Regions from separate parts of the Homo sapiens genome. Here all the other regions are linked to region 3. The links come from fine-mapping of genetic effects on gene expression. A gene starts in region 3. Each other region holds a variant in brackets. All regions are shown on one strand. Distances are from middle to middle.

Region 1 (10,866 bases), 170 kb before region 3:
CCTGGCATGTAGTAGGCACCAGAATAACATTAGCAGTTGGCTAACACAGGAGACCATCTTTTTATGGATGAAGTCTAGCCTTCTCACACAGTATGGTATAAAGTTCCTCTTTATAAGCTTTATAAAGTTCCTCTGTGATCCTCTAACTGCAGGCATTTCTCACTCTGTTTATTGCCCCACACATATTAACACATCCATTTATTGCTTGCCTTTGCAATGCTATTCACTCTGCCTAGAATTCCCCTTTCTTTTTCTTTTTCTCGACTCAGTGCAACCTCAGGCTCCCGGGTTCAAGTGATTCTCCTGCCTCAGCCTCTCTAGTAGCTGGGATTACAGGCGTCCACCCCCATGCCCAGGTAATTTTTATATTTTTAGTAGAGATGAGGTTTTACCATGTTTGCGAGGCTGGTCTCGAACTCCTGACCTCAGGTGAGCCACCCGCCATGGCCTCCCAAAGTGCTGGGATTACAGGCATGAGCCATCTCGCCTGGCCAGGAATTGTCCCTCTTCTTTTCCCAGGAACTACTTTGGTCATTCCCTCCTCTGGTTTGATGCTGAGATAGCTAGCTGGAACACAGATTCCTGGGCCACCCACCCATTCCATACTATCCCAGGGTATTCCTGGAGGAATATTCGTATAGCAGAATATTCATATAGCAGAAAAGGCAAAGAAACCTTTTATTAGCTATTAGGGCCTTGGCCCCAACCCCCAGCATGAATCCCTGAGCCCTGGGGTCTGCACTGGACCTGTGCAATAGGGGCAATTCTGTCCTCATTCCTCTCCCCTTGGCCTCCCCCTGTTTCTTGCTTGGCACTCTGATTAGAGGGGAATGCGAAGAAGGAAAAATGTACCTCCTTCCCAATAGGAAGAAGCCCAGGCCCCCAGCTTACCTGCAGTCTCTGAGAGAGAAGAAATAGACAGGAGCCATCCCCAGCCTGAGACTAGCCTTTAATCCCTTTACTTCACACACTGAGGTTCCACGCAGGCCTGTGGTTCAGTTCTCTTGAATCTGACCAATCCATGACATCACCCCTCCTCCTTAGGGGTAAGGTGAAGAGGGGGAGGGCAGCTACAGGCTTCCTTAGCCACCAGTGACTGCCTGCTTCCTCTTTAAGCTCAAATGTCCTTAGAGTGTGGGTCCAGTGAATATCCTTGGAGGAGATTCTCTACTAAAAATATAAAAATTAGCTGAGCATGGTGGTGGGTGCCTGTAATCCCAGCTACTCGGGAGGCTGAGGCAGGAGAATCACTGGAATCCAGGTGCAGTATCGTACCTGTGCTCCTGGAGAAGGTGCATCTTGTCTGTAAAGACAGTGTGTGATGACGGCCCTCATGTGGAGGCCCCCTGCAAGTTGCCTGGAAAAGTGTATTGTGTGCCTTCAGAGGCAGAGGCAAACTGCCTGAAGGGCTGTGGAAATAGGCACAGAAATAACAGGTTGGCCGCATCTGTAAGAGTAAAGTATTTATTGTTGTTGATTGAATAAAATCAGTTTAATTTTAATATTAGGTATGGGGCCCTAATGGATGGGATCACAATGTTAAGTTGTAGTGATCCATCACAGGGTACCATATATACACATTTATATATTTAAAATAGAGATAAAATCTATATTACATTTATATATTAAAATATATAAATATATTCAAAAATATAAATCTATATTAAAATGTATATACATAAATATATATATATATATTTCCAGATTTGAGCATAGGCAAAATTGGGCTGCTAAATGGAGAAGTAGTAGGGGATAATCACCCTTTTTAAAACTAAGGTTTTTTATAATGAGTTTTAATCCTTGAAGGGCCTGCTTCTACTTACATTGGGCCATATTAACTATAAAATGGGGGCTCATGGGGTCCCATTTTATCAAGCCAATGACAAAGAGACACTTTAATTTATTATTATTATTAATATTGAAACAGGGTCTTACTGTGTCTCCCAGGCTGGAGTGCAGGGGCACTATCAGGGCTCACTGCAGCCTCAGTCTCCTGGGCTCAGGTGATCCTCCCATCTTAGCCTCCCGAGTAGCTGGGACTATAGGCACACATCATCACACATGGTTAATTTTTGTATTTTTTGTTGAGATGGGGTTTTGCCATTTTGCCCCGGTTGGTCTTGAACTCCTGGGCTCAAGAGATCTTCCTGCCTTGGTCTCCCTAAGTGCTGGGATTACAGGCATGAGCCACCATGCCCAATCTAATTTATTATTTATTTTGTCAAAGCATCTATGTCCAATAGAAAACATTTTATAGCAGTGGGTATATGAGCATGGGAAATTTAGGCAAGGCTACACTTAAATTGAGGCATACGCATTTAAAAACTGTTATATGTCGTTACCCTCTCAAGATTATAGGGTCAGAGTGTGTAAATTAGTGGGATCCCCAGGTATAATTATATTTTGACCCCCAATATTAAGTTCATGAATTTTTGACAATTAGTACATTTTCACAAATGTTAAGTTAGAACCTATGTTGTAGAGGCGCAAAAACCAATCAGTGCTGTTTTTAATCTTTTTGTTACACAACTTCTTTAGTATATAAATTAGGAATCTTGAATTTCCAATTAAATCAAATTGTGGAAAATATAGCATATATTCAGCTTGCCATATATATATATATGTATGTATGTATGTATATATATATATGTATGTATGTATGTATATATATATATGTATGTATGTATGTGTATATATATATATATATATATATATATATATATATATATGTATGTATGTATATTTATTTATTTATTTATTTGAGACGGAGTCTTGCTCTGTCACCCAGGCTGGAGTGCAGTGGCTTGATCTTGGCTCACTGCAACTTCCGCCTCCTGGGTTCAAGCCATTCTCCTGCCTCAGCCTCCTGAGTAGCTGGGATTACAAGCATGTACCACCACACCCAGCTAATATTTTTGTATTTTTAGCAGAGATGGGGTTTCTCCATGTTGGCCAGGCCAGTCTCAATCTCATGACCTCAGGTGATCCACCCACCTCAGCCTCCCAAAGTGTTGGGATTACAGGTGTGAGCCCCCACACCCAGCCTATTTATTATATTTATTTTAAAATATGTATATAATTTATTTACATACATTATTTTATATGTAGTTTATATTTAAATTATATACATTTATTTATATATAATTTATACATACCTTTTATTTTCCTCTGTATCTAGGGGTTTGTTCATAAATCAATAAGTAATCTAAGGCTAGCATTATGTTTCCTAGATTTGGTGTTTGCTCAGTACCTAAAGTTTAAAGTTCTAGGCTGGTCATGGTGGCTCACACCTATAATCCCAGCACTTTAGGAAGCTCAAGTGGGTGAATTGCTTGAGCCCAGTAGTTTGCAACCAGCCTGGGCAACATAGTAAAACCTCTTCTCTACCAAAAAAAAAAAAAAAAAAAAAAAAAATCAGTCAGGTGTTGTGATGCACACCTGCAGTCCCAGCTATTTGGGAGGCTGAGGTGGGAGGGTTGCTTGATTCTGGAAGATTGAGGCTGCAGTGAGCCACGATAGCACCACTGCACTCCGGCCTGGTCAACAGAGTTAAATAAATAAATAAATAAATAAATAAATAAATAAATAAGGTTTCTCTGCTTTTCTTGGAGTTGTAGCTGCCTAAAGCATTAGTCTCTCTTGTTTGATTTTTGTTGTTGTTGTTTTTGAGGCTTTTAGCCAGCAGAAGCTGTGGGTGTTAATTTCAGCCTCTGGTTGATAAGAGGAAGGAGGAAAGGGACCCACTGTCTCTAGGAAGGAGGCGCTCTCTGGGATGGCCCCGACTGCCAAATAACCAGTCCATTTTTTCTCCTTTTAAGTAAAAATTTTAGAATGGCTAGCATTTCTAGGTATCTAAATAGGAAGATCTCTCTCTCTCTCTCTCTTCTCTCTCTCTTTCTCAATGTTTGCCTGACAAACTCTTGGTGGTATCAAGTAGCCCCCTATTGTTTTGACCTTACAAATTGTTACTGGAAAAACTTTGGGAGTGACCTCCAGCATACTGGATTCACAGGCAGCTGCTTCTCTTTCCAGGGTGCCCTAATTGACATCTGAGGGGTCGGGATGGGGACCAGGAGCGACCACAGCAAGGAATGCAGCAAAGGAGG[T/C]GCTGGCGGCAGCAGCCCTGACTCTTGGGAGGCGCTGTGGGACTCCGGTGAAGTGACTCCACCAGCGGCTAGGGCTGGACAGTTAGATCCTTTCCCCTGTCTCCACTCACTGACACAGAGAGCCCAATGTCGGATCACCCCTTTCTGACTGTTACTCGGGAGGAATGCTGCTGTCCTAGAGCGTGATAGCTCATGTCTCTCAGTAGTGAGATGGAGGTAGAGCTACACTGTCCTGGCTGCCTCACTCTGGCTGGACACCAGGACTTCGTCATTTATAGCCGATACAGTCCTGACCACTACTAAGACCCCAGGTCACAGGGACAGCATGCCTGGCTCAAGGGGCAACACACCCCCAAAGAGTGGTCAACTGTTTAGGATCCTCGTAATCTCAGGAAGGGAGGCTGAGGTGGAAGGGAAACACACCTTCCTTGCCATGGAACCTGCTGGAGACAGTAGCTACCTTAACGGTAATAGAGAAACGTGAATAGTTTCATTCCAAACAGCATCCTCATAGCTTGGTGACTTAGTGGACATTCTGTGAGAATGTTCATCTCTCATCTCTCAGGCTCCTCGTCCCTCTTACTAATTTACCTGGGGGAGGTGCCTGGATGAGAAGAATGAAGGGGGAAAGAGGTGGGAGGAAGAGAGAGAGAAGGGGAGGGACCGAGTGCAGGTTTCTGATGGGGATGGTGAGATACAGCTAGAGGATTAGGAAAGCCCTAAGACTCACAGGCAACTTCATGGTGGGAGAAGGACTAAATAAGGAGCTGGGGGTACTAATTAAATCTGAGAACAAATGAGGGCAAGAGAGCAGCCCCAGGGAGGGACATGACCACTTTCCTCCCTGTCTGTGCCCCACTCATGAGAGTCCAGAGCAGGTGGACTGAATGACTAAATGAATTTTGTTAACTTTTCTTCAAGCCCCCTAAAAACTTATCTTTTCTCCTTGGCAGATACATCTTTCGGGAAATTTGGGAAAGATTTGAAGTGGAGAGAAAGTTAAATGGGGGTAAGATTATTGGAATAAAATGAACAGACTTTAAGACAAACAGCTCTGACCTCTCCAGGAGGTTTCTGGAATGGCCAGGGAGGAACTTAGTGAGACATATGTAGTGGGTGTGAGTGCCAAGGGTGGCTTTGGAAAGGTATGTGCTGTTCAGAGACGGAATTAACGCACTTCTGACGCCTTTTCAGCCTTCCCGTTTACAATGGGTGGGTGTTTTAATCAGCAGAAAAAGTCTCAGTCCAGTGCATGTTCTGCCACACCCTAGTCTGAAAAACAGGGGCGGGATAAGGCAGAAAAACCCATCTCCACCTCGAAGGCAAACAGGTTCTGTGAGCACAGGCCAGCACCTGATGACCAGGAAGGGGAGAAGGCCGGATAGTCCCTTGTTCCAGGTTGCACTGGTCAGTGAGAGAGGGAAGAGGGGTTGACTCCTCTCGTCTGTCCAGTTTTGAGGTACCCCTACAAGCCCAGGCCAAGCAATCTTATAGGAAAGATACCATTCAGAAACTGTTATGATTAGATTCATACTACACCGTGGTGCTAACCCCTAAGACAATCCTGCATTTAACAGATATAGAACCCAAAATTTAGTTGTGACTTGGCCACAACAACACAGCTTTTCAGTGGAGGACCAGGATCCTAAGCTAGGTCTTCAGATGCCCCAAAAGGAGATAACTTTTCTAACAGTAAGTACCCTCTCAGGGTTAATGCCAGTGGGCTCCAGCTTGGAGCCTGCTGTTTCAATGCAGTGTCTTGTGAGAGTTATTGCCTTCTACCCCTCAGCCATGTAGCTCTCTCTGCTGACAGCCACTGTGCCTCCAGCCCAGCCATGGACATCCAGACTTTGAGGAACTAGAACCCAGGCCTTCAAATAGGCTTCCTTTCCAAGTGTCTGGTGATTCTCTTTGGTTTGAGATGCTCTGTCTTTAAAAATTCCTCTACCTAATCCTTAAATGGTTTGGTTTCTAGGACTCAGTCTGAGACCCTCTAGGACTCAGTCTGAGACCCTCTTTTCTTCCCTGATCTCATCCATTTCCATTTCAATTAATATGTGTGTCCATGATTCTTTTTTTTTTTTTTTTTTTGAGATGGAGTCTTGCTCTGTTGCCCAAGCTGGAGTACAGTGGCATGATAGCTCACTGCAACCTCCACCTCTGGGGTTCAAGCGATTCTCCTTCCTCAGCCTCCCGAGTAGCTGGGATTATAGGCGCGTGCCACCATGCCTGGCTAATTTTTGTATTTTTTTTTTAGTAGAGACGGGGTTTCGCCATGTTGGTCAGGCTGGTCTCGAACTCCTGACCTCGTGATCCACCCACCTTGGCCTCTCAAAGTGCCGGGATTGCAGGCGTGAGCCACCGTGCCCGGACCCATCATTCTTAAATTTACATCTTCAGCCCAGATCTCTCAGCTGAGCTCCAGATCGACATTTATTATCTTTAAGCTCTCTGCCAGGATGTCTCACACAGTCTACAAACTCTGCAAATCCCAAGTGTACTCTATAATACCCTAAACCTTCTTCCCATGTACCTCTGATATATTGGAGTTCGTATCTCCACTGCCACTATCCACCATTCTTCCTCTATCTAGTATCCCTACATCCATACTGGCTCCCTTTAATCCATCCTCCATCTTTTCCAGAGCTTTCCAAATTCAAATTCTTTTTTTTTCTTTCAAAGGTGATGTTTCTATTGTCCAGGCTGGAGTGCAGTTGATTTAAGCTCACTGCAGCCTGGAACTCCTGGATTCAAGCGATCCTCCCACCTCAGCCTCCTGAGTAGCTGGAACTACAGGTGAGTGCCACCACACCTGGCTACTTAAATTTTTTTTGTAGAGATGGGGTCTCGTTGTGTTGCCCAGGCTGGTCTTGAACTCCTGGCCTCAAGCAGTCCTCCCACCTTGGTCTTCCAAAGTGTTGGGATTACAGGCATGAGCCACCGCACCAGGACAACCAAATTCAAATTTGTAAGATGGCTTTCAAAGCCCTATGTGATGTCATTCCAGTCCATCTCTCCAGAAACTCACCTCTGGCTCCCTGTGCTGTAAAGGGCCTTTCCCCTACTTTCCTTAATACCTCTCGTTCTTCAGTTCTTGGTGTAGATATTCATCTTCAGGGATGTCTTCCCTACTCCAGCTCCCTCGTATTCCCTCCGAGAACTCTCTATACCCTTCCTCATGACACTCATCCCAAATGTAATTGGCAAAATTACTTTTGAGACACTAAGTGCCATGAGGGCAGGTATCTGTCTTATTTTTCATTGTACTCCTAGCACCTAAAACAGACCTTCCAGTTTATTGAATGGATGGCACATAGTAGGGCTCAATAAATGGATCCCCCCATTTTCTGCTTTCTCATTTCCTTTGAGAATCAAGCCTTACTTTGGGACTAGGCCACCCTGTCAAGTGAGACAGGTCGTGTTTTCTCTGTCACCTAAGAAGACCCACTTGAGTTAGACTGCATTCCAGTCCAGGGCGAAAGAAAGAAAAAAAGAGCTGAAAAGGCCACCCCAGAACTGCACTAGAGAGAAGCCCAGAGTAAGTTCATAAAATTTGCTAAATCAAATGACAGATGCCTTTCTTAGGCGGGTGTGTACTGTTCAGGGTGAAATAAAGCCATCCAAACTCCTTTTCAGCCATTCCCTTCACAAAGCACAGCCCAAATGGCTTTGCACACTCATGTCTGTGTTTTGTCAGGTAAAGATTCCTGTTTCGCCTCTTGCTAGCATCCATCTGTTCATCCAGGCAAGGCTGCCCCACCCTGACACACAAAGGAGGGACTAGCTGAAGAATCAACCATATGGTCAGCAATGACTAAAACCACCCATTCCAGCAGGCTTGGCTAAGAAAGCTAATATTTGAAAAGCTGTGGTTTGAGGAACTAGGTGAGTTATGGGAAATTCTAATTTGTTTTATATCTTGTAGATGGTACTTCAGTTAAAAGTTATAAACCACAGACACACATGGCTTATGCAGGACCATTTTTTCTGTTCCTGATCTGTCCCTCTTCATTGTGTGAAGCTGGATGGTTCGTGTTTACTTCACAGCTCCTAAAGTTGAAGATACTGAGTATTTAAAGATATAAATGTTTAATTAAAAAATTATTAGCTTTTAACCTTGTAACATACTCAGGTTTGGAGTAGAAAGGTACTGCAGTACAGTGTTAGGAGCCCAGTGACAAAGAATTCCCAGGATAATGACTGGATGTCATTTCCATGAAGAGGCTTGCTGCTGGCCTATACTGCCAGCTTAAGCAAACTGGGAAAAGATGTGTCCTCTGAGATGTAACCCTATCTTTGGCAGGCTGAGCACAGGCTAGATTTCAGCCTCTCATTCACCCTCCTTCCTCTCTCAACTGGGTGCCTTTGTGTAGTACGTAAACTCTATAATTACACACGGTAGCCCTGCCTTTATATGAATGTATAGATTTTAAAAATATAAATCAGGGATGAAACACTACCAGTAGTCTTATTCAAAACAATATTATTTAATTTAATATTTTCACCTATGAGAGGTAATGAATGCAGAAATATAGTCTCCATTATAGCAGACAGGAAAAAATACATTATCCTACTATTTTCTAGAAAAATGATTGTGGCATTAGCAAATCAAATGGAAAAAGTGAATAAGCAGACTGAGATTACCTGAAAATAGTTAGTTGCTAGTAAGATTCAGTACAATGTATGTTTATTAAATAATCGCTACTAGAACAAACATCTGCGACAACTATGAAGTTAGGAAATGCTGTATTAGCTTGAACAGTTTATCTGTTGGTCACATTAATAAGTGACTCAGAAATATTACAAGTATGGAAAGGCATGATAGTGAACAATGCCACATGAGTCCATTAAGCAAAAATAGATAATGGCCCCTATATCTTAGAACAGACTCACTTATTCATTGGTATGAATAATTTAGCTCTAAAAAGAAAAATCCAAAAGAAGCGAAGACTAACTGTGGAAAGGACTTTGAACTTTTCCTTTTAGAAAGTTAAAAAAAAGAAAAAAAGTGTACATGACTACCACAGCTTGACAACTACCATGTGGCACATTTTATATGACATGAGAAAAAATGGTCAAAAGATCTCAACTTTCTGGAAGTCAACTCAAAAGCTGAGGGCAACTAGCATTTTTGGATTTTACAGTATAGAATGGAATTCCCTTTATATTGAAAACTAAATCATGGACCTTGCTCATAGTAATTTTTCTCAAAGGTTTAGGCACTTTGCAACAGGCTATTGCCAATCTAGAAAAACTGACGTGAAAAAATAATTAGGTCATGTAAATATTAAATACAAATCATGTGATTACATTCAAAGACATGAGATGTCTTAAATGAATAACATATTTTCATTCTGACAAGTGCACACTAGAATCACCTTGCAGAGAAGTGCAGTTGGGCAGTACCACTGTACTGTACCACTGTACCACTTGCTGACAGTCTAGAGCAGGGGAGACAAACTCCCAAGCCAGAGAGTAAACATTTTAGGCTTTGCAGGCTACATACAGTTTCTGTTGCATATTCTTCTTTCTCTAAACGTTTTTAAAATGTAAAAACCAGCTGGGCACGGTAGCTCACGCCTGTAATTCCAGGACTTTGGGAGGCCAAGGCAGGTGAATCACTTGAGGTCAGGAGTTCAAGACCAGCCTGGCCAACCCAGCTCTACTAAAAATACAAAAATCAGCCAGGCATGGTGGCATGGTGGCATGTGCCTGTAGTCCCAGCTACTCGGGAGGCTGAGGCAGGAGAATCGCTTGAACCTTGGGAGGCGGAGGTTGCAATGAGTTGAGATCCTGCCACTGCACTCCAGCGTGGGTGACAGAGAGAGACTCTGTCTCAAAAAAATAAATAAATATATATATATATATATAAAGAATAAAATAAAATAAAATAACCATTCTTACCTTGCAGGCCATACAACGCAGCCTGAATTTGGCCCATGGGTTGTAGTTTACCAACCCCTGATCTAGACCCCTTTGATATTATGACACATTTTTATCATTTTCTTTTAGGCACAGATGATCTCTGAATGAATGCTTATAGGGAACCATATGTATATGCTTAAAGATTTCTCTAATAAATATGGTTGCTGCAACTTTAGAGTTAATTCTGCAAATTCAATTTAAAAGTGATGATTACAGATCTGGCATTGCCAGATGTTTCAGAAGCTTTATGACAATTTTGTGAATATTTAAGTTACCAATGACTAAATTCAGTTCAAGTATCAACACTACATTTTTAAAGCAATGAAGCAGGTCTTGTAAGGGTTGAAAAGGAACTGTATGCAGAGCAGTGACCTGTGGCTGATGCTATACTGACTGATGGCTGCTGAGCTAGAGTAGGGGAATTTTAGGTCACTTGCAGCCTGTAACTGAATTTCTTGATTTGCATTTTAGGGTTTTCTATTTAAAAAAAAATTCTTGTGACCAGTCTTCTACACTAGCTGCCTTTGAAATCAGGTAGTAATTAGCTGAATTTAATGATAAAATGAAGACCTTGAGAAATAATATTTGTTATTTAAAGTACATGAAAATGGGTGGTCAGAACCTGCTTAGCTTTCCTCCAAAATGGCTGAATGTGTATCACAGCAATGGAAATGCTGTAGCTAACAAACGACTTAAGTTCTTGAATGATCTGTCTTCTCCTTAGCTGCTCTGCTGGCCTATCAGAGAAGACTGTGCCTTGGTGAAACTTGTTGTCCCTTACAGTTTCCACTTTTCTTTCAGCAATGTCAAGGTTTCATACTCAAGGCAAAAGTTT
Region 2 (10,866 bases), 100 kb before region 3:
GAGGAGTATCTTTGTGGCATTCTTTGTATTTCCTGAATTTGAATGTTGGCCTGCCTTGCTAGATTGGGGAAGTTCTCCTGGATAATATCCTGCAGAGTGTTTTCCAACTTGGTTCCATTCTCCCTGTCACTTTCAGGTACAACAATCAGACGTAGATTTGGTCTTTTCACAGTCCCATATTTCTTGGAGGCTTTGTTCGTTTCTTTTTATTCTTTTTTCTCTAAACTTCTCTTCTGGCTTCATTTCATTCATTTCGTCTTCCATCACTGATAGCCTTTCTTCCAGTTGATCGCATCAGCTACTGAGGCTTGTGCATTCGTCACGTAGTTCTCGTGCCGTGGTTTTCAGCTCCATCAGGTCCTTTAAGGACCTCTCTGCATTGGTTATTCTAGTTAGCCATTCATCTTATTTTTTTTCAAGGTTTTTAACTTCTTTGCCATTGGTTCGAACTTCCTCCTTTAGCTTGGAGTAGTTTAATCTTCTGAAGCCTTCTTCTCTCAACTTGTCAAAGTCATTCTCCGTCCAGCTTTGTTCCATTGCTGGTGAGGAGCTGCATTCCTTTGGAGGAGGACAGGCGCTCTGATTTTTAGTTTCCAGTTTTTCTGCTCTGTTTTTTCCCATCTTCATGGTTTTATCTACCTTTGGTCTTTGATGATGGTGACGTACAGATGGGTTTTTGGTGTGGATGTCCTTTCTGTTTGTTAGTTGTCCTTCTAACAGTCAGGACCCTCAGCTGCAGGTCTGTTGGAGTTTGCTGGAGGTCCACTTCAGACCCTGTTTGCCTGGGTATCAGCAGTGGTGGCTGCAGAACAGAGGATATTGGTGAACCGCAAATGCTGCTGCCTCATCATTCCTCTGGAAGTTTTGTCTCAGAAGAGTACCCAGCCGTGTGAGGTGTCAGTCCACCCCTACTGGGGGGTGCCTCCCAGTTAGGCTACTCGGGGGTCAGGGACCCACTTGAGGAGGCAGTCTGCCCGTTCTCAGATCTCAAGCTTCATGCTGGGAGAACCACTACTCTCTTCAAAGCTGTCAGACAGGGACATTTAAGTCTGCAGAGGTTACTGCTGCCTTTTGTTTGTCTGTTCCCTGCCCCCAGAGGTGGAGCCTATAGAGGCAGGCAGGCCTCCTTGAGCTGTGGTGGGCTTCATCCAGTTCGAGCTTCCCGGCCGCTTTGTTTACCTACTCAAGCCTCGGCAATGGCAGGCGCCCCTCCCCCAGCCTCACTGCTGCCTTGCAATTTGATCTCAGACTGCTGTGCTAGCAGTGAGAGAGGCTCCGTGGGCGTAGGACCCTCCGAGCCAGGTGCGGGATATAATCTCCTGGTGTGCGGTTTGTTAAGCCCATTGGGAAAGTGCAGTATTAGGGTGGGAGTGACCTGATTTTCCAGGTGCCATCGGTCACCCCTTTCTTTGACTAGGAAAGGGAATTCCCTGACCCCTTGCACTTCCTGGGTGAGGCGATGCCTCGCCCTGCTTTGGCTCACGCACATGCACTGCACCCACTGACCTGCACCCAATGTCCGGCACTCCCCAGTGAGATGAACCCGGTACCTCAGTTGGAAATGCAGAAGTCACCCGTCTTCTGTGTCGCTAACGCCGAGAGTTGTAGACTGGAGCTGTTCCTATTTGGCCATCTTGGCTACTTGACCAGGTTTCTTTTCTTAACGCAGCATAATGTGGCTTACTTTTCAACCTGACTTTGGTATAGCATCACATGACAAGGAAATCAAAGGACCTCTTGAGACTCTATTGTCCTGAGATAGGAATAATACAGGGTGGAGAAGAAATTCCAGGCAGCAATTTCACATGACTTAGAGTCTTTGGGCTGGTAAGATCCTGAAAAACAGGGTGTGGACCAAGCTGGCTAAGACCGATTGGATCCAGCATGTCACTGGATTTGACCGAGGTTTCACCTAGGACCTCATTATATGCTCATTAACATACTAAACCACAAACCCAGCAGCACCATTGAAATAGGTCAGGGTCACTGGTCTCGTTGTCTAATGTGTTATCCGAGCTTGTGGTCTCAAGAAAATTAAGGAGTGTGGACCCAAAGAATGAGGTTGGAGGAAAAGTTTAATAAGCAAAAGAAGAAAAGCTGAATTGAAAAGCTTTCACAAGAAACTGCTCTCATGTCTGTAAGTGTTTGAGAAACTTATCTATGCATAACTTCCCTTTATGTAGTTGTGGGTATGTCTCTAGGTAAGCATAAAGTGAAACTTTTTGTTTGTATAATTGTGGTTTTGTTTAAAGTAAGCCCCCCTCCTCCCTCTGCAAGTTTCCATGGGGCCCACTGTGTACATGTCTGAAAAGGGGAGGAAACTTCCTGGGAGCTCGCTAATCATACAAAGAGCAAAAGGCTTCTATGCTGGACTTTTCCTGCCTTGCCTGCTTATCTGTGGCTTATCTGTGCAGGTGCACTGTAGCTGCGATTTTTCAGGCAGGCAGCTTCTACAGTCTGAGTTTTTCTCCAAGCTGCTCTATCTTGCCTGTAGCTGTGATTTTTCAGGCAGGCAGCTTTTCCAAGGACCAGCCTTAACCGTTTACCTAACTAATTTTTCCTTTTCTTCTCCCTCACTATGACAGTTCCAGGAACACCTATTGGGTGGCACCACAGTTCTGATAAATCTCTACCTTTTTCCAGGAATTTTCATGAATATTCCATTCCTTGGTTAGAGAAACACATAAAGGTAGCAGCCCCAAACCCCACTGCATGACACTCTCTCAAGTACACCTGCACTCCCTTGAGTGTGTACTTTTACTCTTTGCAATAAATTTCTTTACTTTCATTATTTTTCGACTTGTCCTTGAATTCATTCTTGTGATGGTGCCAAGAGCCTAGACATTGGCTAGGATAGAGGTCCACTGCTGTTTGGGGACTTCCCCCAGCCCACCAGTATCACACCATGCCATGGTCACTAATATTGGCTCAGAATAAACCTTTAAAAAATACTTGACAGGCCAGGCACAGTGGCTCACGCCTGTATTCCCAGCACTTTGGGAGGCCAGGTGGGTGGATCATCTGAGGTCAAGAGTTCAAGACCAGCCTGGCCAATGTGGTGAAACCCCGTCTCTACTAAAAATACAAAAATTAGCGAGGCATGGTGGCGGGTGCTTATAACCCCAGCTACTCAGGAGGCTGAGGCAGGAGAATCGCTTGAACCTGGGAGGCAGAGGTTGCAGTGAGCCGAGATCACACTACATTCCAGTGTCACTCTGGGCGACAGAGTGAGACTCCATCTCAAAAAAAAAAAAAAAAAATTAGCTGGGCATGGTGGTGCACGCCTGTAACCCCAGCTACTCGGGAGGCTGAGGCAGGAGAATCACTTGAACCTGGGAGGCAGAGGTTGCCGTGAGCCAAGATTACACCACTGCATGCCAGCCTAAGTGACAAGGGTGAAACTCCATCTCAAAAAATAATAATAATAAAAATTAAAAATAATAAAATAAAGATATTTGACAGGGTTTAGTTTTTCCATTAACACATATAATTTTGATTTGTCCCATTAGTGATGATTAGGTTGCTTGATTAAGGTGTTTCCCACTTGGCTTCTCCACTGTAAAGGTATTCTTTCTCCCCTTTTTAAGTATTTTGTGGAAAGGTACTTTGAAACTATGTAAATATACTCTTTAACATCAAACTTTTTCTTTATTCATTTATTTATACTCATGTATTATTTCATTTAATACATCATTTATTATCTAGTATGGACTCAGATTTCCCATATTACTCATCGGGTTACATTATAACTATTATAACCCATTACCATTTATTTTGATGCTCAAATTGCCCCATATTTGGCCAGCAGGAACCTCTTCAAGTTGGCTTCAGTGTCCTTTTGACATATTCCCATAATTTTTTGAGCCTTTCCATTTTTTCTGGCATAAAAAGATGATCTAGGCTGATATTGTCCTTTTTTTTTTTTCTGCCCCAGCCCTTGGAATCAGCCCTGGTTCCTTTTAAAGAAGAATGATTTTTAGAAAACAAGATCTGGATGCTAGGTATATTCTTTGGCTTTGAAGTTCCCCATTCCCAGATCCTCTCATGGACAGAGCTTGAGAATGTATGTATATATATGTGTATTAAAATATTTAAGTATGTATACATATACACAAAATACATACATATGCATATCACATATTTTCACATCTATATTTATGTCTATTATATATGTATGTATTGAACATAGGAGTCTGCACTGTTAACTCCAATTTCAGTTTGTCACCACAGAGCTCATTCTAGTTTTCATCTTTTCCGTATTTGCGACTTTTGTTCTCTAACAGTAAGAAACCTGGCTCCCATTCTCCTTAATGTATTTATTTATTTGATTAATTACCCTGTATGCAACATGGCTTCCATTGCTACCTCTCCTTTTCCCAAGCAATGCCCTTCTCACTCAATTCAGGCTCCAACACTTGGTGCTGGGCTGCTGCTGCACCTCCACTTAGACAGCCTCTCGACTCTGCTTGTGCTCTCAGATCCTGCACTGGGCCACTCTGCCATGTAGAAGTCACTCTCACCTTCCCAGGGTACCAAAACATGGCACAAAGCTGTCCCCACTATGTGGCACTCTCTCCATCCCACTCAGATTCCAACCGCATGTCAAATGACCCCCCCAACTTGGGAGGACACCCTTCTTATTCTGCACTGAGCTGTCCCCTTTGCATGGATACCTTTTCAACCCTGGTCTCTAATACACTGTCCCTGGGCTGCCTTGATGTGCAAATACCCTCCTCACTCCTAGTTAGGCTCTGACACCCTACACTGGACTATCCCCCTATGTTGACACTCTCTTTAACTGGCTGAGGTCCCAGAGTTCTGTGATGGATGGTCCCCACCCCATGTGGCTATCCTATAAGCCACACTCAGGTTTTGACACTCCAATGTGGCTACTGAGCACTTGAAATAAGCCTAATCTGAACTAAAAATATATTGCAGGTATAATAACCAGATTTAAGAATATGAAATACTTTATTCATAATTTTTTATATTGATTATATATAGAGAGAGAAGTAGTATTTTAGATATACTGGGTTAAATAAAATTTATTATGATTATTATTATTATTTGAGACAGAGTCTTGCTCTGTCGCCAGGCTGGAGTGCAGTGGCGTGATCTTGGCTTACTGCGATCTCCGCCTCCCAGGCTCAAGAGATTCTCCTGTCTCAGCTTCCCGGGTAGCTGGGATTACAGGTGCACACCACCACACCCAGCTAATTTTTGTATTTTTAGTAGAGACGGGGTTTCCACATGTTGGCCAGGATGGTCTCAATCTCCTGACCTCGTGATCCACCCACCTCCGCCTCTCAAAGTGCTGGGATTACAGGCATGAGCCACCGCGCCCAGCCAAATAAAATATATTATTATTTTCACCCATTTCTGTGTACTTTTTTTCAATGTAGCTACTAGAAAAATTTAAATTACAAATGTAGCTCAGATTTTACTTGTACTACTGTTCTAGAAGTTTCTGGATTAGTGATGGGAAATCAAGAGATCAAAAGACTGAGGACTTGACATATATGCCCTCCTCAGAGTAAGGATGGAAACTAAAAATCCTTGGCTAGCTCTGCAGGGGTGTCCAATCTTTTGGCTTCCCTGAGCCACACATAAAATTAACACTAACGGCCGGGTGCGGTGGCTCATGCTTGTAATCTCAGCATTTTGGGAGGCTGAGGCAGGCGGATCACCTGAGGTCAGGAGTTCGAGACCAGCCTGGCCAACATGTTGAAACCCCGTCTCTACTAAAAATATAAAAAATTAGCCGGGCTTGGTGGTGGGTGCCTGTAGTCCTAGCTACTTGGGAGGCTGAGGCAGGAGAATTGCTTGAACCTGGGAGGCAGAGGTTGCAGTGAGCCAAGATTGCACCACTGCACTCCAGCCTGGGCAATAAGAGCAAAACTTTGACTCAAAAAAATGAAAAATAAAAATAAAAATAAATTGCAAAAAAAAACCTTATAATGTTTTAAGAAAGTTTATGAATTTGTATTGGGCTGCATTCAAAGCCATCCTGGGTCACATGC[G/A]GCCCACAGGTTGGACAAGCTTGCTTTAAAGTCTTGCTACATAGAGGGACTCAGACTATTCAAATGGATGCCATACAGCCATGAAAGAATGCAGGTATCTCAGAATAAGAATATATTGTTCTGGTGAACTGATTATGTCTTTTTAAGATGTCCCCATGTGACTCTGCTCTCTAATGCTGCTCTCAATTTTATATGCCCGCACAGAGATGGTCAAAAAGCCCTATACTATTTGTACTTGTTTTCCTTATGGACTCACCTGCTTATTTCTTTACTTCACTTAGTCAGTTTGGATCCTCAGACTTGAAGTAAAAAACTCCAGAGATTACAAATCCCATCTTTTAGCCATAGTTATGTGCTCTTTTCTCAAATCTGAAGTACTTCTGAATTAAGAGAAATAAGCATTTGTCAATTTCATCATTACTAACCTGCATTTCATATTTCAGAGTCATGTGGAAGCACCAGGATCCCATTCCTACCACTGAAATTAAACAAATGAAAAAAAATTAGCATGAAATTCTTTGTGCGTGGACAGTGACCTGAGAAGACAATAAGACATTTCAAAGCATTGAGTTAAGGATAATGAAGTTTATAAAATCTAGTGGCAAGATATAGCTGACTCTTGAGTAAGTGCTATAATTGGTGAAATTTTGGTGTAGAAAAGAAGTACAATATAAGTTCTCCTAAATTCCCTCTACTAAGTGACTTACTAGACTAACAATATTCCATTATTTCTGTAAAATGTATTATCTGATGCTCAGGATAAGTTTTAATGCACATAGCTGGTTAGCTACTCCTTTGCACTTCTGACCCAAATGGCTAAGGTGTATGCTTACTAAGAGCCAGTCAGTTTGTTCCTGAACTTGTTGATGCCATTGTATTTGGTTATCAGAGCTATGACTGCAAAAAGAGTTGTTGCTTCTCCAAGAACTATTTAAAATGCTTAAAGTAGACTTAATAAAAATGAGTTGCTGGCCGGACACAGTGGCTCGCGCCTGTAATCCCAGCACTTTGGGAGGTTGAGGTGGGTGGACCATCTAAGGTCAGGAGTTCAAGACCAGCCTGGCCAACATGGTGAAACCCCGTCTCTACTAAAAATACAAAAATTAGCTGGTCATGGTGGCAGGCCCCCGTAATACCAGCTACTCGGGAGGCTGAGGCAAGAGAATCGTTTGAACCCAGAAGAAGGAGGTTGCAGTGAGCTGAGACTGTGCCACTGCACTCCAGCCCGGGCAACAAGAGCAAAACTCTGTCTCAAAAAAAAAAAAAAAAAAAAGTTGCTAATAAAAATCATGTTGAATTAGGTGTGGTTGGATATCTGTTACAGACTGGGAAAAATAGTAAAAATCTAAAAAGATTCTGTAGGCAGGGCACAGTGGCTCAGGCTTGTAATCCCAGCACTTTGGGAGGCTAAGGCCAGAGGATCGCTTGAACTCAGAAGTTCAAGACCAGCCTGGGCAACATAGTGAGACCTTATCTCTATTAATACATAAGATAATAATAATAAAATTAAAAAATAAAAAGATTCTGTGTTCATGTCCTAAGTTCTTCCCAAGTGCCTCCATTTTAAATAAACTATTTTCATTTTAGCGTTTTATAAAATGTTTGGTTTTTAAAGCAAAGAGTAAGTAGAACTAAAATTAGGGTCTCTCATTCAATGGTCATGCCCTATGTTAAGTAATTGTCAAAGATTATATACAACAAAAATAAAACTTCAGGCCCAGCCCGGTGGCTCACACCTGTAATCCCAGCACTTTGGAGGCTGAGGCAGACAGATCACCTGAGGTCAGGAGTTCGAGATCAGCCTGGTCAACATGGTGAAACCCCATCTCTACTAAAAATATAAAAATTAGCCAGACATGGTGATACACACCTGTAGTCCCAGCTACTTGGGAGGCTGAGGCAGAAGGATCGCGTAAACCTGGGAAATGGAGGTTGCAGTGAGCCGAGATTGTGCCACTGCACTTCAGCCTCGGCGACAGAGTGAGACTCCATCTCAAAAATGAAAAAACACACACACAAAAAGTTAAAAATTAAACTTCATGTATATATGTATTCAATAATTCTGTGCTTCAATATATCAAAGGTTTAATATCCAAAATTTAAAAAATTCTATGCTTCAACTTAAAAAAATTAACTGATCAAGTATCAGCCCTTATAACATCTAATAAAGCTTTTTTTTCTGATTCAGTTTAGTTCAGAATTTACTGAGTGCATCCTATTTGCCAAATTCAGTTATAGATGCTGAGGTACAAAGATAAGATCCAGTCATTGGCCTTAATGAAACATATAGTCTAATGGAAGAGACAGGCAGATAAACAGAAGGTGCCTGCACATGGACATATGCGTTGAGTACCACAGAAGCACAGAGAAGGAACACTTGTGAAGGAAATCCAAGAATGCAAGAATGATGGTACAGATTAAACTTAAGGATACATAGGACTTAGCCCAACAAATGTAGTGAGTAGGGGCGTCATTAAATAATTTGTATGAAGCCACCTGAGAAAAATTTCAAACTATATGTTATTCTTGCCTTTAAAAAAATCACTAGATTGTAATTTTTACTCCTCAAAATGAAAGGAGGGAAATAAGATAGTTATTGCACTCATCTCATTAGAGAAATAAGGAAGTGGGGTGGTTCGTGCCTTTTTTCCCAAAAAAGTAATTAGAAGGTACAAAGGTGGATAAATTATTCAATGTAAAGGAAAAAAAAAACCTTTAAGTTATTTAAAGTCACACAATAACAATATACTATGAAGTAAAAAAAAAAAAAAAGTGAGATGGGATGATTGTTCATCTTGGTAGAATGGCCACTTTATCATGCCTTACTCAAGGACTGTTTTTATCAAAACCTTTTCAAAGTGTTCTCTTGATACTGTTAAATTATATAGCATTAAAAGTCTGATTTTTTTCCCTGCTTTTGCTCACAGAGCCATTAAACATCTGACTTTTTAGAGATCTCTACAGTTTATTTCCTTTCAACAATCTGGGTAACACATAAAAAAGTATTCTGATGAAAATCTATTCTGGTGGCTACTCAGAGGTTTCAAATTCCTTTCAGGAGAGGGTAGCACTAGGTTTACTCCTCTTTTTTCTTTGTTATTTTCCTTTCTTTTAAAAAGTGCTCTCCTGCAACTGACATTTCTAGACATTTAGAGTCCAAAAACATGTAATAGAACAGCATTCTCTATGCAATATTTTGTATTTTGCCCCTTTAAAGCAAACCACCAAGTTTTGCTGTTTATCAGGTTTCTTGAGATATAATTCACATAAAATCAATCCAAAGTATACAATTCAATTGTTTTCAGTATATTCAGAGGTGTGCAAACATCACCTCAACCTAATTTTAGAACATTTTCATCACCCCTAAAAGAAAGCCTATACCCATTAGCAGTCATTTTCCATTTTCTCTCAACCCCTCCAGCCCTGGGCAATCATTAGTCTACTTTGTCTGTACAGATTTGCCTGCTGGGGACATTACATCTAAGTGGAATCATACATCATGTAGTCTTTTATGTCTAGCTTCTCTTCCTTAAGCATAATGTTTCCAAGGTTCATTTATGTCATCACATGCATCAGTGATTCATCCTTTTTATGGACGAATAATAATATTCCATTATATGAACATACCATATTTTACTTATCCATTCATCAGGTGATGGACATTGCTATGTACTGAATGTTTCTATGCCTGCCTCCCCAACTCCCCAGTTCATATGTTGAAGCTCTAGCCCCTAATGTGATGGTATCTGGAGGTGAGACCTTTGGGAGTTAATTAGGTTTGGATGAGGTCATATGGGCGTGGCATCCCCAGGATGGCATTAGTGCCCTTATAAGAGTAAGACACTGAAGCTTGCTTCTTCTCTTTCCACAGCACAGACAGAGGAAAGGCCATGTGAGACACAGCAAGAAAGTGACCATCTGCAAGCCAGGAAGGAGACGTTTTTTGGTTTTGGTTCCTCACCAGGAACCAAATTAAATGCCACCTTGATCTTGGACTTCCAAGCCTCCAGAACTGTGAGAAATAAATGTATGTTGCTTAAGCCACCCAGTCTATGGTATTTTGTTACGGCAGCCTGAGCTAAAAAAGACATTTAGGTTGTTTCTACATTTTCACTATTATGAACATATTGTATTTCACATATTGTATATGTGAACACTCATATACAAGTTTTTATGTGGACATATGTTTTTATTTCATTCATTCATATATACTTTGGAGTGAGATTTCTGGGTCACATGGTTTAGTATTTTGAGGAAGTGTTTTTTGGAGTGTCTGTACCATCTTACATTCCTATCAGCAATATACTAATTTCTCCACATCTTGCCAATATTTATCACTGGCTGTCTTTGTGATTACAGCCATCCTAATGGATGTGAAGTGGTATTTCATTATCATTTTGATTAGTATTTCCTTAACGAGGACACCATTTGTTTTCAATAAATATTTACTGTGTACTTAATACTCCAAGCATTTCCACTGGGATAAGTGAGTGTACAAGAGAAATATGGTTCCTGTCTCAGAACTTTAAACAAACCATTAAAAATACAAAAAGGGGGCCGGGTATGGTGACTCACACCTGTAAACCCAGGACTTTGGGAGGCCAAGGTGGGTAGATCCCTTGAGCTCAGGAGTTTGAGACCAGCCTGCCCAACATGGAGAATCTTTGTCTCTACAAAGCATACAGAAGGTTAACTGGGTGTGATGGCATAGTCCTGTAGTCACAGCTACTTGGGAGGCTGAGGTGGGAGGATCACTTGAGCCTGGGAGGTTGAAGCTGCAGTAAGCCATGATTGTGCCACTGCACTCCAGCCTGGGTGACAGAGTGAAATCTTGTCAAAAAAAAAG
Region 3 (10,866 bases):
CAGCCTGGGTGACAGAGCGAGATTCCGTCTGGAAAAAAAAAAAAAATGCAATCTGAGGAATTCAGAGAAAGAGAAGGCAAACTTATCAACGTAAATGCATAAAGTAGTTGTGGTGAAAAGGATAAAGATGTCCCAGGAGAAATTATGCTAACAAAAAAAACTTTGCATTAAAGGAACTCTTGGAGAGATTTCACAATCTTAAAAGTGCAAAGGATAAATTTTGGAAGCTGATACAAATTAGAAAAGAATTCATGAAGGGATAGTACTCATCCCGGCTGGGCATGGTGGCTCATGCCTATATTCTCAACACTTTGGGAGGCTGAGGTGGGAGGACTGCTTGAGCTCAGGAGTTTGAGACCAGCTTGGGCAACATGGCAAAACCCTGTCTCTACTAAAAATCCAAAAAAAAAAAAAAAAAATTAGCTGGGCATGGTGGCACACGCCTGTAGTCCCAGCTATGGGGTACTGAGGTGGCAGGATCACTTGAGCCTGGGAGGTCGAGGCTGCAGTGAGCTGTGATTGTGCCACTGCACTCCAGCCTAAGCAACAGAGGGAGACCTTGTCTCAAGAAAAATCCAAAAACCTGTTGGCCCTCATTAGTGTAGCTGTAGCTGGCTAAAAAAAAAAAAAAAAAAAAATTAATTTAAAAGAAAAAAGACAACTGGGCATGGAAGTTCACGCCTGTAATCCCAGCACTTTGGGAGGCTGAACAGGTGGATCACTTGAGGTCAGGAGTTCGAGACCAGCCTGGCCAAAATGGTGAAACCCCGTCTCCACTAAAAATACAAAAATTAGCCAGGCGTGGTGGCATGCGCCTGTAATCCCAGCTACTTGGGAGGCTGAGGCAGGAGAACTGCTTGAACCCAGGGGGTGGAGGTTGCAGTGAGCCGAGATCGCGACACTGCATTCCAGCCTAGGCAACAGAGCGAGACTCTACCTCAAAAAAAAAAAAAAAAAAAAATACCCATTCCATATTATGAGTTATGTGACAAAAAGGCAAGCACTGTTTTAATTACTCTTGATAAGTGATTTTTATAAACAAAATAGTTTATTTCTCAATGTTTTTAATGTTTTAAAGTATACTAAATAAATATGCTTACTTTTTTCATTTCCCTACATATTCATAACCAACAGTAAGAGAGTTTACAATGTTTGACAAAAAGTTTTAAAGATCACAGAACAATCATAACTTTTCCCATTGATTATTAACATAGTGTTACCTGGTTTTAACTTGCACAGTCATTTGTGTGGTCCCACACTATGATGCAAAGCAAGGACTGCCTGTACCTCTAACTTCTGGCAGGTCAAGGGGCTTATTATTTCACAATGAGAGACCTTTTCCTCTGGTCTTTACAATATGCTCAAACAAAAGGAATTTAAACTGATCTTGGCTGATGCTAGGAAGACAGTTTTCGGGTGCTGAAAGTGACTGAGAACTACTGCCATATCTGAATATGCAATTCCCCAAACACTTCATTATTCCCTAAAATACATATATTCTAATGCTGAAAGATAGTTGAAAGATGGTTGAGTAAACTGAATAGTTGTTCAATTTGTCCTGTGTGATAGCATAGTATTTCATATCTGTCTTCCTTTCTTGAATATAGGGGCAAAACAATGAATGTGTGATAGAAGTAATGATGGAGAGGTAACATGGATAGTAGCTTTAGAGTCAGACTTCAATGTGAACACTATCTCTACATCACTTACTGTAATCTTAGGTAAATTATTTCTTAGAACTTCAATCTCCTTATCTTTGAAATGGGGATAATAATACCTTCTTTTTGAAATTACTGTAAAGATCAAAAGAGATAAGATATATGAAGTGCTTAGCAAAGTGTAGTACAAGTGACCACTTAGATAATAGCTATTATTACATTATCCTTAATATTACCATCAATACTATTGTTAATGTAAATACTATCGTGATGTTAATATTGCACTTGCTTTAAACACATATTTTAAACATATTATTATTAATCAGCATATTTTTCAAAGATCAAATTATCTTAGTCCAAGATATATTACTGTAGATACTCATGACTTGCTATGGTAAGATGACTTGACCTCAACTTCCTCCAGATGATTTTCTCCCAAGGTGCATGCGCAAAGGGCTGCAAACATTCACTCATCCTCTTCTTGCAACCCCTCTGATTCCTATGTCAAAACCCTCCCTGCAGTCTGCTCAGAGTTTCCTCTTCTGAGCACATTGAGAACAAATGTCATTTCCCATTTCTCAGAGCTATCTGCCAGAACACAGTATCTTGCTCTCTCAGAGTCCACATGACTTACCGCCAGTTTTCTCTCTTTGCATTTTTTATATTTTTTTTGTAGAAATAGGGTCTAACTCTTGCCCAGGCTGGAGTGCAGTGGCATAATTACAGCTCACAGCAACCTTGAACTCCTGGGCTCAAGTGATCTTCCCACCTCAGTCTCCTAAGTAGCTGGGACTACAGGCACAAACCACCATGCATATCTAATTTTTTTTATTTTTTATGGAGACAGGGTCTCACTATGTTGCCCAGGCTGGACTCAAACTCCTGGCCTCAAGCAGTCCTCCTGCCTTGGCCTCCCAAAGTGCTGGGATTACAGGCATGGGCCACGATGCCCAGCCCAGTTTTTTCTTGGTTCTAAACTAAGAGTCATTATTACCTACATAGACCCATAAAGCTGCAACTAAGGCCAGCCCCTTTTCTCTATTAAATAATTTTTTCCTTCGAAAATATTGAGTTCATTGAACAATGTCTGATTTAACACTTTCAGTGACAGAAAGTCCTCTGTCCCCCAAGTCAACCTTTCCCATATCATTGGTGAGAAGGTTTTTCCTTATATTGAAGCAAACTTTTCCCCATTACAGTTAGTTTCTGCCCATATGCCCTAATTCCAGATTCCAAATAAATTAAAAAAAAATTATTCTATATGATAGCCCATCCAATATTTGAAGACTCTTGAATTCCTCTTTTCCATGTTACACATTTCCAGCGCAGAGTGCATGGTTTTACATCTCTTTCCTCGTGGTCATGGTTCTCTGGACCAGGCATGGGCTTGCCAAAGTGATCTAACAACAAACTGGTAAAGCGCTTCCTTTGCCAACATGTGGGTTCCCAAGTAATTGTATTACAAATGATCCCTTTGCCAATATTTCTCCATGATTATGTAAAAATTATTAATTTAATAGTTGAAGAAAAGTGACTCTTAGCCTAAATCATGGTCATAAGAGAATAGTACTAAAGTCCTGAAAACTGCAAAAAGTGTTCTTTTTTTTTTTTTTTGAAACTTAGCCAATTACCAGAACAGAATAAAGTGGGACCATTTGTCATGATATGCTTGCCTCTTTCCTACAAAGCCATGCACAGATGCCTGAGAACAGGACTCAACAATGAGAAGGTTAGCTAAGAAGAGTTTCACTTCACGTCCTGAGAAGTAGATCCAACTAAAAGAAGGCAGTAATCATTAGCCAAAGGATAGTCTTTGCACTTTGCCAGAAGCAGGTACCTAAAAGAAGGATCAAATATTGTGCTCTCAAAACCTGATTAAATGATAGAAAAAGAAGTGGCAGATTTCTCCTAGCCTGGCAGGAAAAATCGTCTAGGAAAACAGACAGACACCCACATAGGCACACAGAACAAGCCCAACCTGACCAGCAGTGCCTGACAGAGCAGCCGCTAAAGAAGAATGCTTAAATCCTCAGAAGGTGCAGTCGGTGGAAGTAGTGTCCTCAGATGACCCCTAACTCCTAGATAGTTGGATAGGACAGAATGGAGCAGGGACTTGGTCCTCTGTGCTCTTGGGAGCCTGGCAGGGGCAGAAGGTACAGGCTAGGTGCAAGATGCCTTCGACTCCTGGTGCAAGATGACAGTTGAATAATCATACTCAGAGAGCAGATGACCTCTGGTACTTGAAGACATCCTGGGGGATAGGGGTGGGATGGTTCAGATCTCAGACTAGTGAAACTGTTCCCTGGAGGTGAGCAAGGAGGTCTAATATTCCAGTGAAAAGGGAAGGGAAAGACGGTAGAATTCTCACGGATTGGGGGAAAGACGAAGCTAGGAACTGTACCCTTCTGGTGGTGGCAACAGCAGAGCAGGTGTCCTGGGCCCTCATTCCAAGGGGCAGGGTCCTCCACTCTCCCAGCCTGGCCCCACTCCGCTCTCGGGCAGGAATTCCCATTCCCAACCCGGCTCTTCAGGCTTTCCCCCTTAGGTCCAGCAGGGGCTCCCCACTTCCCACTGCTCTTCTGCCCCCCCAATCCTCAGGCCCCCTTCCTCCCTCCCAGACCCCGGTACTCCTCCCTCTACACACTGGACTCCCGGCCCGCTCCTCTCAGCCTCCCGCTGGCCCAGGGCGCCGCATTCCAGCTCCCGGGGCCAGGCCTGGCACCTCCCTTCGCGGCCAGGTTCGCTCTTTGCCTTCCTCACACGGCGTCTCCTCAGCCCGGTGCCCTCTCGCCCCCACTCCCCTCCTCAGGCCACACTCACAGAACTCGGCGATGTACCAGGTCACGGAGTAGTTCTCCTCGCACCAGTCCAGCGTGGAGGTCGTGGGGCCCCAGTAGCCCTCTCGGTCCGCGGCCGGAGCCATCACGCCGCCGCCGCCGCCGCCCAGGCGCTCCGCTCACTGTGCCGGGTTAGGCTGGCGACCAGGCCGGCTCCGGCCCAGCCCGCGCGCTCGCTCGCGCCCCGCCCGGCCCTGCCTCCCCGAGGGGCGGGGCCTGGCGCCGTTACTGACACTGCCCTGACGGAGGCCCCGCCCACCGGCGCCGCTGGGCCGCGGGGCCGGGCCAGGCCCGACCTGGTGTAAGGCCCACTCGGAGGGCGCCGGCTGGCCCCGCCCCTCTTCACCCTTGGGCGGGGCAGGGGCGTGATCCAGGAAGGAGCCGGGGGCCTGGGCTTCCTGGCCGGTGCAGACACGCCAATGGCCGTAGGTTGGGGGTTCCTGACATCCCAGAGGCTATATTCTGTCAGGATGTGCCAGAGCCTCTATTTGTGTGCGTGTGGTTTGATTTAATCGGGGCGGGGGTGGGATGAATACTTCTATCAAGCCCTTGCTTGATTAAACCTGTGCGGCGAAGCGCCTCTATGTCTTCCATTGAGCCACAGGCCTCAAATGGAGCCCCAAAACAGAGTACCCCCAACCAATCCCCGTGATTCTCAGGAAATAAACCGTGATTTTCTGATAAAGGTGTAAGTGTCTCTTCGGTACAAAGGGAAAGGGTGAACAACCCAGGACCGAAAAAAAAAAAGTAGGTTCTGAGATCCTAAAAAAAAAGAATGCTGCTAGCTAGAGCACTAAAGCAAAGTTTCCCTGCTTCGTTTGGGCCTCCAAGCACAGAGGTTTCCACGTTCTAACTATAATTGTGCCCTGCTCTTCAGGCAACCAACAGCCTACCCCTACTTCCAACTTCAAGTCTAATACTCCCAGCCCCCGTCTGGGAGTATCGTAGACGGCAAAACCCCGTGTCTACGAAAAATACAAAAATTAGCTGGGCGCGGTGGCTCAGACGTGTGGTCCCAGCTACTTGAGAAGCTGAGGTGGGAGGATCACTTGAGCCCCCGCGGTGGAGATTGCATGCAGTGAGCTGAGACTGTGCCAATCCAGCCTGGGAGAACAGAGCGAGACCCTGTCTCTAAATAAATAAATAAATAAATAAATAAATAAATAAATAAAAAGTCTAGTACTCCACAGGTCTGCCAGAGAGCTCTTCCTAAAACAGATGCAACCACCCTTGCCCCTAGTGTTCAGCTACACCAAACTCAAACTTTCCCCTCTCCTAGAATGCGCTGGGTCACCTGCCTTTGCTCCCACAGTTCAACTGGGACAGCCTAACTCTCTTCTCCGTTTGACCAACTCCCCACTCTTCTTTTAAAATCCAGCTCTCTGAAGCCATCCCAGATGTTTACACCCTAGAGCTTCCTTGCCCTTTGTTCACATCCTACTGTGCTACATCCTGATCAGAGACCTTGCTTTCCCTTCTTTATGGTCTTAGTATTAGGACTCTGCCTGAATACACAGTAAGAAATGAAGAGTAAAAATGAAGGATGATACAACTGCTATTTTCTAAATAAATAAGTCAGATGTGGTGCAAGTCAAAGGTAAAAGAGAGGACAAGGAGAGATGAAGAGCCCACAGCCTTTCTACAAAATAACCATAGCCAATTAGCAGGAAATAGATGCAGAACTTTTATTTGCTAGGTGCAAAACCTAGGGAAGCAGTGTATCTTTTTTTTTTTTTTTTTTTTTTTTTGAGACAGTCTTGCTCTGTCGGCCAGGCTGGAATGCACTGGCATGATCTCAGCTCACCGCAACTTCCGCCCCCTGGGTTTAAGCGATTCTCCTGTCTCAGCCTCCAGAGTAGCTGGGACTACAGGTGTGCACCACCACGCCCAGCTAATTTTTGTATTTTTAGTAGAGACAGGGTTTCACCTTGTTGGCCAGGCTGGCCTCGATCTCTTGACCTCGTGATTCACCCGCCTCGGCCTCCCAAAGTGCTGGGATTACAGGCGTGAGCCATCGCACCCGGCCGGAAGCAGTGTATTTTAATACGAATAGTAGCCTCTCTGAAATTTTTCTTTTTTGAGACAGAATCTCGATCTGTCGCCCAGGCTGGAGTGCAGTGGTGCCATCTTGGCTCGCTGCAACTTCTGCCTTCCGGGAATCGTGCCTCAGTACCCCCTCATCCCCATAGCTGGGATTACAGGAGGCTGCCACCACACCTGGCTAATTTTTGTATTTTTAATAGAGACGAGATTTCACCATGTTGGCCAGGCCAGTCTTGAACTCCTGACCTTGAGTGATCCACCCTCCTTGGCCTCCGAAAGTCCTGGGATTACAGGCCTGAGTTACACCCTGCCTGGCCTGAAATTTTTATTTTGAATGTCATTGAGCTTCTACTATATACCAGGCCCTGTTTGGCTGCCTGGGTGCTAGGACCACACAGAGGTAAACATGAAAGATCCAAGAAGGCCGTCTCCAGAGAGATAAAAGCCATTGAGGTGTGGGGAAACATCTATTTCTAGTCACTTTATCTCATATTCTAAAACTTCCGTTTTGTTTATGTGTTTATGTAATAATCATGAGCATATATAATTTATAAATGAATGAAATATTTATATATTTATATGCTCAAAATGAATATGCAAAAACTCATACGCAAAAGTGATTTGCCGATGAGGTGTGCAATCAGAACAGTGCAGAGACCACAACAATAGAGTATGATCATTCTTAGCTAGGAGTAAAAAAAAAATTAGGGTGTTGTGGAACCCCCTATGTGAAAATAACCCCTGACCCAGCCAAGTGACTCAAGGCAGGATGAGGCCTTGGCTGAGTCAATACTCTGCACAATGTTCCTCAATAGTGAAAAAGGAAATCTACCGTGACCAGGACGGATTTTAGGAGAGAGAAATTCCCCCATCCGAGAGAAAAGGTGCATTGCAGAAGTTTCACTCAGAAAACACAAAATGAATTTCACAGTTCCTTCAGCAATATCTACCTTCCTTTTTCTTTTTTTCTAAAAAATTTCCCCCCTTGAGCATAAAAGCAATGCCTGGAAATGTAAGGGACCCAGACAAGTCAAAACTATCTCAAAAAAGAAGAACAAAGCTGGAGGACTTATACTTCCTGATTTCAACACTTACTGTAAAACTATAGTAATGAAGACAGTGCAGTACTGGCATGAAGATAGACATGTAGATCAAAGGAATCGAATTGAGAGTCCAGCAATAAACCCTTACATTTATGGTCAATTGATTTTTAACAAGGATGCCAAGACAATTCAATAGGGATTGAATAGTCTTTCAACAAATGGTGCTGGGACAACTGGATATCCACATGCAAAAGAATGAAATTAGAATGCTTCCTGTTACAATAAACAAAATTCAACTCAAAATAGATCATAGACCTAAATGTAAGAGCCAAAACTATACAATTCTTAGAAGTTTACATAAAAATAAATATTTGTAACCTTGGGTAGGCAATGGTTTCTTATATAAAACACCAAAAACACAAGCGACAAAGGGAAAAATAGATAAATTGGACTTCATCAAAATTAAAAACTCCTTTGCTGAAAATGATACCATCAAGAAAGTGAAAAGACAACCCACAGAATGAAAGAAATTATTTGCAAATCATATATCTTATATGAGACTTGTGTCCAGAATATATAAAGAACTTGTAATTCAATAATTAGAAGACAAGTAACTCCCAATAACCCTATTAAAGAATGAGTAAAGGATCTGAATAGACATTTCTCCAAGGAAGATATACAAATGATCAATAAAAACATGAAAAGATGTTCAACATAGCCGGGCGCTGTGGCTCAAGCCTGTAATCCCAGCACTTTGGGAGGCCGAGGCAGGCGGATCATGAGGTCAGGAGATCGAGACCATCCTGGCTAACACAGTGAAACCCCGTCTCTACTAAAAACACAAAAAATTCGCCGGGCGTGGTGGTGGGCACCTGTAGTCCCAGCTACTCGGGAGGCTGAGGCAGGAGAATGGCGTGAACCCAGGAGGCGGAGCTTGCAGTGAGCCGAGATTGCACTGCTGCACTCCAGCCTGGGCGACAGAGCAAGACTACGTCACAAAAAAAAAAACAAAAGAAAAGGAAAAAGAAAAGATGTTCAACATAATTAGCCATTAGAAAAATGCAAATCAAAACCACAGTGAGATGCCGCTTCAGACAACCTAGGATGGCTATAATCAAAAAGACAAATAACAACAAATGTTGGCAAGCATGTGGAGAAAGTGGAACCCTCAAACATCGCTGGTATGTAAAATGGTGCAGCAGCTTTGAGAACTTTTTCAGTTCCTCAGAATGCTAAATGGAGTTATCATATGACCTAAGCAGTTTTACTCCTAGGTATACACCAAGAGAATTAAAAACATATATCCACCAAAAACTTGTACAAGAATGATCATAGCAGTATTATTCACAGTAGCCAAAAAGTGGAAACACACCAAATGTCCATCAACTGATGAATAGATTAATAAGTGTGATATACACATTCAATGAAATATTATTCTGCAATAAAAAGAAATGAAATGAAATACTGGTGCATGCTACAACATGGATGAACCTTGAAAATTTTATGCCATATCAAAGAAGCCAGACACCAAGGGGCACATATTGTGATTCCATTTATAATATATGGAACATCTAGAATAGGCAAATCTGAAGAGATAGAAAGTAAATCAGTGGTTGTCTAAGGCTGAGAAAGGGAGCAGGAACAGGAGGTGACTGTTAATGGGAATAGGGTAAGTTTGGGGGATGATGAAAGTGTTCTAAAATTAGATTGTGGTGATAGTTACACAACTCTGTGGACATGCCCAAAAAAAAAACCCACTGAAGTGTATACTTTAAATGGCCAATATGTATGGTGTGTAAATTACATCTTAAAACTTTTTATTTTATTTTATTTTATTTTATTTTATTTTATTTTATTTTGAGATGGAGTTTTATTCTTTTTGCTGAGGCTGGAGTGCAATGGTATGATCTCGGCTCACTGCAACCTCTGCTTCCTGGGTTTAAGTGATTCTCTGCTTCAGCCTCCTGAGTAGCTGAGATTACAGGTGTGCACCACCACGCCTGGCTAATTTTGTATTTTTAGCAGAGACCAGGTTTCACCATGTAGGCCAGGCTGGTCTTGAACTCCTGACCTCAGGTGATCTGCCCACTTCGGCCTCCCAAAGTGCTGAGATTGCAGGCATAAGCCATTGCACCCGGCCAAAACTTTTGTTTAAAGCAATACATTCTTAAGTTGAAAAATTTAGAAAATACCAAAAAAAAAAAAGTATAAAAAAAGAAATCACTTACAATCCCACCAACTAGCAATGTCCATTGTCAACACTTAAGTACATTTTCTTCCGTTATTTTATCTAATGATTTGTTTACATGATGGAGCTATTTTTATCTTTATATTTCATATTCTTTCATAAGCATTTCTCATGCTATTAAAAATACTCATAAATATCACTTTAATAGTTACATTAGGGAGGGTGCAGTGGATCATGCCTATAATCCCAGCACTTTGGGAGGCCAAACTGGGAGGATCTCTTGAGCTCAAGAGTTCAACACCAGCCTGGGCAACATAGCCAAACCCTGCCTCTACAAAAAATTTTAAAAATTAGCTGGGTGTGTTGGTGTGTGCCTGTAGTCCCAGCTACTCAGAAGGCTGGGACGAGAGGGTGCCTGAGCCCAGGAGTTTGAAGTTACAGTGACATATTATGCACCACTCCACTCCAGCCTGGGCAACAGTGAGTCCCTGTTTCTAAAAAAAAAAAAAAAAGAAGTTACATCATATCCAATTTTATAAATAAATCACAATTTACTTAATTATGATATATTACTATTCCCTTACTACTGGGTATTTAGGTTATTTCCAATGCCAATATTTATTTTCGACTAACAACCCAAATTTTGAAAGCTTTCAACTAGATTCCTACTGAAAATTCTTTTTATCAGTTTTCAATATGACAAAAGAAATCCAAGCTATAATTAATTTTTCCATATGAGATATGTTGTACCATTTCACAACTGCAAAGGAAAATTTGAAACCACAAAAACCAAATGTGTAGGCTCACCACAGAATAAGTGATCTTAAGATCTACAAGTTACCTCTTGTCCTCTTTTACAGCTCAGTGCATTCATGGCAGCCCCTTAACACTGCCTAGCTATCTCTCTGTGGGAGACATGGAGTGTCACCAAAAGACAACAGACCTCAACCTGGGGACAGAACCCTAGCCTTTCTGGGAAGGCTCCCCTGACCCCCAGACAGGGTTGAAGAGCCTCCTGTGTTCTCCTGCAGATCCTTGGTTTCCCTCTGCCATACTCCTCTCGCTTTTGGTAATAGGCTGTTTGGGAGTTGGCCTTC

The links. PIP is the estimated chance that this variant, and not a neighbour inherited with it, causes the effect. A credible set is the group of variants that fine-mapping cannot tell apart.
Region 1: its variant is the best candidate, but not a certain one, in a credible set for the expression of ACER3 in whole blood (INTERVAL, PIP 0.70).
Region 2: its variant is the best candidate, but not a certain one, in a credible set for the expression of ACER3 in whole blood (INTERVAL, PIP 0.86).

The regions. Positions count from the first base shown.
Region 1 is chr11:77,024,504-77,035,369 of GRCh38, reverse strand. All of the region lies in intron 1 of ACER3-AS1 (ACER antisense RNA 1), which reads left to right. It overlaps ACER3 (alkaline ceramidase 3), which reads right to left. Exons shown (of 11, transcript NM_018367.7): 11 at 8,573-10,866. B3GNT6 (UDP-GlcNAc:betaGal beta-1,3-N-acetylglucosaminyltransferase 6) reads right to left here and starts at 972. Exons shown (of 2, transcript NM_138706.5): 1 at 892-972. RefSeq lists a silencer at 10,381-10,430. The variant T/C (reference allele first, on the strand shown) is at 4,107.
Region 2 is chr11:76,954,611-76,965,476 of GRCh38, reverse strand. It overlaps ACER3 (alkaline ceramidase 3), which reads right to left. Exons shown (of 11, transcript NM_018367.7): 3 at 6,446-6,498. It overlaps ACER3-AS1 (ACER antisense RNA 1), which reads left to right. Exons shown (of 3, transcript XR_007062792.1): 2 at 6,464-6,643; 3 at 9,892-9,931. Among named protein-coding and RNA genes, the nearest start is that of B3GNT6, 74 kb to the left of the region's middle. RefSeq lists an enhancer at 876-2,075 and a silencer at 2,297-2,356. The variant G/A (reference allele first, on the strand shown) is at 6,021.
Region 3 is chr11:76,854,692-76,865,557 of GRCh38, reverse strand. It overlaps ACER3 (alkaline ceramidase 3), which reads right to left and starts at 4,640. Exons shown (of 11, transcript NM_018367.7): 1 at 4,479-4,640. The coding sequence starts at 4,581. RefSeq lists silencers at 4,568-4,827, 4,868-4,967.